Linked DNA regions of Homo sapiens: region 1 is linked to region 2. Evidence: fine-mapped expression QTL. A gene starts in region 2. The other region holds a variant in brackets. All regions are shown on one strand. Distances are from middle to middle.

Evidence for each region. PIP is the estimated chance that this variant, and not a neighbour inherited with it, causes the effect. A credible set is the group of variants that fine-mapping cannot tell apart.
Region 1: its variant is the best candidate, but not a certain one, in a credible set for the expression of AURKB in whole blood (INTERVAL, PIP 0.83).

What each region holds. Positions count from the first base shown.
Region 1 is chr17:8,235,774-8,238,273 of GRCh38, forward strand. It overlaps CTC1 (CST telomere replication complex component 1), which reads right to left. Exons shown (of 23, transcript NM_025099.6): 4 at 2,258-2,469; 5 at 1,602-1,746; 6 at 285-569; 7 at 58-186. Among named protein-coding and RNA genes, the nearest start is that of TRI-AAT4-1, 10 kb to the left of the region's middle. The variant T/C (reference allele first, on the strand shown) is at 1,006.
Region 2 is chr17:8,209,166-8,212,184 of GRCh38, forward strand. It overlaps AURKB (aurora kinase B), which reads right to left and starts at 1,410. Exons shown (of 9, transcript NM_004217.4): 1 at 1,365-1,410; 2 at 1,012-1,084. The coding sequence starts at 1,059. RefSeq lists enhancers at 642-1,301, 863-912.

The sequences.
Region 1 (2,500 bases), 26 kb after region 2:
TGAAGGTAAGAGAAGCTGCAGAGGTCTCTTTTTGTTATCAGCCCTGATCTCACATACCTGCAGACACACTCCAGGTCGCATCACCCGCCTAAGGCCACGGAACTGCTGGTAGGCAAGGCAGAGCCCCAGCTGCCCATCCAGCTCATAGAGGCCAGCGGGCTCATTCAACACGCCAGTGACTGCTCCCTGCAAACAGGCCGAGGTCCAGTTGACCACTATTTTCTTCCTCTTTGAAAACCCACATTTCTGGCCCCTCAAGCTCTAGGATCTCTCCCTGTGCTCACCGAATAGGATAGGAGTCTAGAATACCGGACAAGACTTTCTGGATCCTTCTTGTCCTCCGAGTTGCTGGGCATGGGGAGTGGCTTGGGGTCAGCCTCTAAGAGGGGTCCTTCCAGCTCCAGTTCCAGCTCCTGCACACATTCTGGTTTCAGCAGCAACAGACGGGAGGACTGACTGGTCATCCAAACATGCTGGCGCTGACCACGGATCTTGGACACTCGCAGTTCTGTCAGCACATAGGCTGTACCAGGCCGAAGGGCTCTGTGCCACACCAGCTGGGCAGGGACCTGGCTTGTGCAGAGACAGGCAATGTGACACAAGAGACCCCAACACTGCCACTCTGCCAGAGTCCTTTTCCCTCACGATTTGAACTCAGAGACCTGCCCTCTGTGAGTCTCAACTCACCTCTCCATCTTCCCTATGTCTGCCAACTAAATCTTAGCGTCTCTCCTCTCTCACAGGAGATGCCAAATATTTCCAAACCACTTCCCCAACATACAAACCATCCCTAAAACTTCCTTCAAAATACATAAATATTCCACTGAGAAAACTGTGCCCTATCCCGCCCCATAACACACAAACAACATTCATTCATGTAATCAAAGTGTATTGAGTATATATGTATCCAGTATTGTGACTGATGTCAAGGGAAGTATGACAAACTGTTCTTCTCTAACACAGTAAGGCCCTATTTCTACAAAATACATATATTTTTAAAATTTC[T/C]ATAAAAAGGAAAAGAAACATTATTCAGAAACTTATATGTCATAAAACAATGGTTAGAATAAAGATCAATGATTTACAATTTCTACCTTGGGTACTATGCTCAGTACCTGGGTAAAGAGATCAATCATACCCCAAACCTCAGAATCACAAAATATACCCAGTTAATAAACTTGCACATGTACCTCATGAGTCTAAAAGTTGAAATTATAAAAATAAAATTGTACCAGTTGATGCAAAAAGAGTCAACAGTAAGTACCAAGTTTTTTTTTTTTTTTTAATGCCTGTATTCAATGTCTCAATGGTGTTAAGATGAATGATTTCTTTGGTCATCTCCACAAGTGAGCGTGGCAGTTTTTTAAAAGGTCACATACAATCTAAAAGCTGTGTGCTCAAGTGAGTTGCACAGCGGGAAAGTCTACTCCCTAACTCTATGCACAAACATTTCCCGGAATCTTCTCCCAACAGCGCTATTCCAGAAAACAGCTCTCCCCAGCTGTCCTCCTTTCCTACATGGCTCCTCCTATGATGCTATCTTTCCTACTGAAAGTTCTACCACCCTCCCCCACTTCCATGGCTGAAATGACCCCAGTCCTCACCTGCACGATGATGGACACGTGGGTGACAGCTGGGTGTGATCTACCAAGAGACAGGATGAAGTAAGCTTTCTGTTTACTTTTCACCAGAGCACTCAATCGAACTAGACTCCCAGCCAGGTTTCGCTGCACACCTCTGAGCTTGTTTCTAAGAAGGAAGAAAAAGCCCTGTAATCCCAGCTACTCAGGAGGCTGAGGGAGGAGAATCACTTGAACCTGAAAGGCAGAGGTTGCAGTAAGCTGAGATCCCGCCATTGGACTCCAGCCTGGGCAGCAGGAGTGAAACTACGTCTCAAAAAAAAAAAAAAAAAAAAAAAAAAAAAAAAAAAAAGCAGCAGCAGTCATCTTTATTTCTCTTCTTTTTCCCTATAAATGCTGTCCCTTCCACAGTAAAGAATAACCTGGTAATGATACAAAATGTCCATAGCCCAAAGCAAGCTATGCTAAAAACCTTCAAAATTCTCTTTCCCTTAGGTAAGGCACAGATCCCTTGAACAACCCTTCTCTTTACCTTCTTAATATTCAAAGCCCACCATTCCCTTGATTTGGAACATTCAGTCTATATTACTATCAATGCCCTTTTCTTTCTCTCCCTCCACTGACCCAGCATCATCCTTCAGTTTTACAGCGCCCCTGCCATGCCTAGAGGGGGAAATTACCTGAGCCTGAGCAGGCAGGAAGCACTCTCTGGGTAGAGGACAGGGATAGGCGTGACGGGGCCAGGACTGATGGTCAAAGGAAACACTGGCACAGGGGCATCCCACAGCTCCAAGTGCCCTTCCCCTGAGGAATTCCACCTGGCAGGAGGGAGGTAACTCCAACGGGGGAACAGAAAAAGATGGCCCAACCAAGAAAGGTCCAGGTCTATGAGCTAAGAAAGACCAAGAGCAAGGGTTAATCAG
Region 2 (3,019 bases):
ACATGCCTGGCTAATTTTTGTATTTTTAGTAGAGACGGGGTTTTACCATGTTGGCCAGGCTGGTCTCGAACTCCTGACCTCAGGTGATCCACCTGCCTCAGCCTCCCAGTGCTGGGATTACAGGCGTGAGCCACCTACCTGGCCTCACTTTCAACTCTCAAAATAATAGGTACATTTTCTTTTAGGAGTGACTAAGGTAAAAGTGACAATGGTTTCTCATTCAGACTCCATTCCTGACAGCCTCACTCAGTGCTCCATGAGGGAGGGAGCTGATGTACAAGGGAACAGACAGACTCTCCAGGAAGCAAGAGCTCCAAAAACAGGGAGCAAAGCCTGTGCAGGGCCCCTTCCTTCTTCTGCAGCCAAGAGAAGAAAGCCCCTAGGCCCCAAATAGTGATATTGGTACCAATCTACAAATAAGCAAGTTGAATAAAATACAGTCCAGAAATAGACCCACATATATGTGGGAATTTATATATATAATAAAGGTGGCATTTCAAATCAGAGAGGAGGCCCTTCAATGAAATCTGTCTGGACCATTGGGAAATAAGTCAATTTAGATCCATTTAGATTCTTACCTCAATTTAGTCATTAATTCCAAATTGTAATTTAGACTTGCCCTGGGCCTTTTAAACTGTAACTTTATATCCTTTTAGAGTCTATTTCTATTTGCTGTCTAGTTTTTTTTTTTTCAGGATATGGATTGGGAATCATGGCCTGAAGGCCAGGCCCTGCCTGCTCAGTCCCAGATATCATTTGTATGTGACGAGCCCTGCAGAGGTCCTCACCAGCTGGGAGTCACTGGCTGGTCAGATTCACGTTGGCAGCACCTGACAGGATGTGGCTACAAATGACCAGAGCGGGTTCTGTCGTCAAACTTGGGACCCGTACTTTGGAGCATAACGGGGAAGAAAGTGCTTAAAGGATTGCTCATTGCAGGATCTCAAGTTTCCCAGCAGGAACTCGCCATGCGGGGTCATGGGGGCGCAGGGACGGAGGGAAGGGCCTTACCGTCTGTCGGCCGTAGGGCCAGGGGTAGGAGTTCTCCTTCTGGGCCATCCTTAGAGAGAAAGGGGGAGGAGAGCTGGGCGGAGAAGGGAAACAGCCGTGAGAAGCAGAGAAAAAGAGAGAGAGAGGGAGGGGTTGGACCGATCGAGCCGGAAGCGCTAGCCCGAGCTGGTAAAAGGGAGCAGGTCAGCACACTAGCCCCAATCTGGGCGCTGGTCTCACCGCCCCCGCCCTGCTATCGTCCCTACCTCCTTCCAGCCCTGCGGCGTGCGCGCAGGCCAGCCCAACGGACCCTCTGATCTACCTGATCATCTGCCCACTCCCGGCGCAAGGCCTGCGACAGGAGGCCAGCTCACCTGGGGTCCAAGGCACTGCTACTCTCCCGGCCGCCCGCAAACAACTGAATCTGCCACGCCGCGCCCTGGCCAAGGACTTTTCAAATCTCCCGCCCCGGCCCCATTGGGCAAGCTCGTCGCCCATGCCTAGTTCCCATTGGCTCGATGTCCTGTGACGTAAGTCATGGGAACCCAATGGAAGAGGCGGAATGAGAAGGGCTCACGCTTGGCTTCCAGTTTAGGAAAGTTTCCCCAAATTCCCCCAGTGAATTATCTTGCTTTTTCTTTTCTTTTTTTTTTTCCTTTTTTGAGACAGGTCTCTCTCTGTCGCTCAGGCTGGAGTATAATGGTGCTATCTGGGCTTGCTGCAACCTCTGCCTCCCGGGTTCAAGCGATTCTCGTGCCTCAGCCACCCGAGTAGCTGGGATTACAAGCGCCCGCCACCACGCCTGGCTAATTTTTGTATTTTTATTAGAGACGGGTTTTCGCTGTGTTGGCCAATCTGGTCTCGAACTCCTGTCCTCAGGTGATCCACCCGCCTCGGCTTCCCAAAATGCTGGGATTACAGGCGTGAGCCACCGTGCCCGGCCTTCTTCTTTTTATAAAAAAAATTAAATCTTTAATGTAACTGGAGTTTATCCTTATGCATGTATGAGCTGGGGTCTAACTTCTCTGCCCGATGGAGCGCCAGTTATGTCAACACCATTTGTTAAACAAACTGCCCCAACAGAATTTAAATGCTGCCCTTGATATATAATGTTAGCATATTTACTTGTGTCTATTTCTAGACTTTGTATTCCGTTGTTTGCTCATTTGCCTGTGTGTTTATTCTTGTGTCATTACTATGTCGTTCTTAAAAGTTCTGACATTCCTGGGAGGAGTTTTTCCACCAATAGACCTTTCGTTGCAAGATCTCTGTTAGCTGCCGTGTTGTTTGGGCCCACTTTCATTTTTCCTCCTTCCTGCCACACTTCCTTCTTTTCTGCTCTTCCTAACCCTCAGATTTCATTACTGGGTTAAATAAATACATTTTTGGGCCTTCTATGAAATAACCAGTGGATATTTATTAAGTATGTACTGTCCAGCACTCTTCTCCTTTCTTCTAACACTCTATTTTTCCTTTAGGGGACCACCTGTCTCTCCAGTCTATGCAGTCGGTTTCTGTAGTAGTTTCTGTTGCTGACAACCCCAAATCCCTAGGTTGATGAAGACCTATTTAAATCTCACTTTTTTTTTTTTTTTTGAGATGAAGATTCGCTGTGTTGCCCAGGCTGGAGTGCAATGGCACAATCTCAGCTCACCACAACCTCCTCCTCCAGGGTGCAACTGATTCTCCTGTCTCAGCCTCCCGAGTACCTAGGATTATAGGTGCATGTGACCACGCCCGGCTAATTTTTGTATTTTTAGTAGAGACGGGGTTTCATCACATTGCTCAGGCTGGCCTCAGGTGATCCGCCCGCCTTGGTCTCCCAAAGTGCTTGGATTACAGGCGTGAGCCACTGCGCCCAGCTTTATTCCCACTTCTGAAAGCACTTAGAGTTTTGAGGATTTGAGAAGGAAACTGACTTCATTGCAGGTCCAGAAATGAGCCCCAATTAACTTATACTAATCAATACCTTTTATTCCAGATTATGGTTATTGGATCAGGCATAAGCCTGTGATTTAAGTGGGCCAGC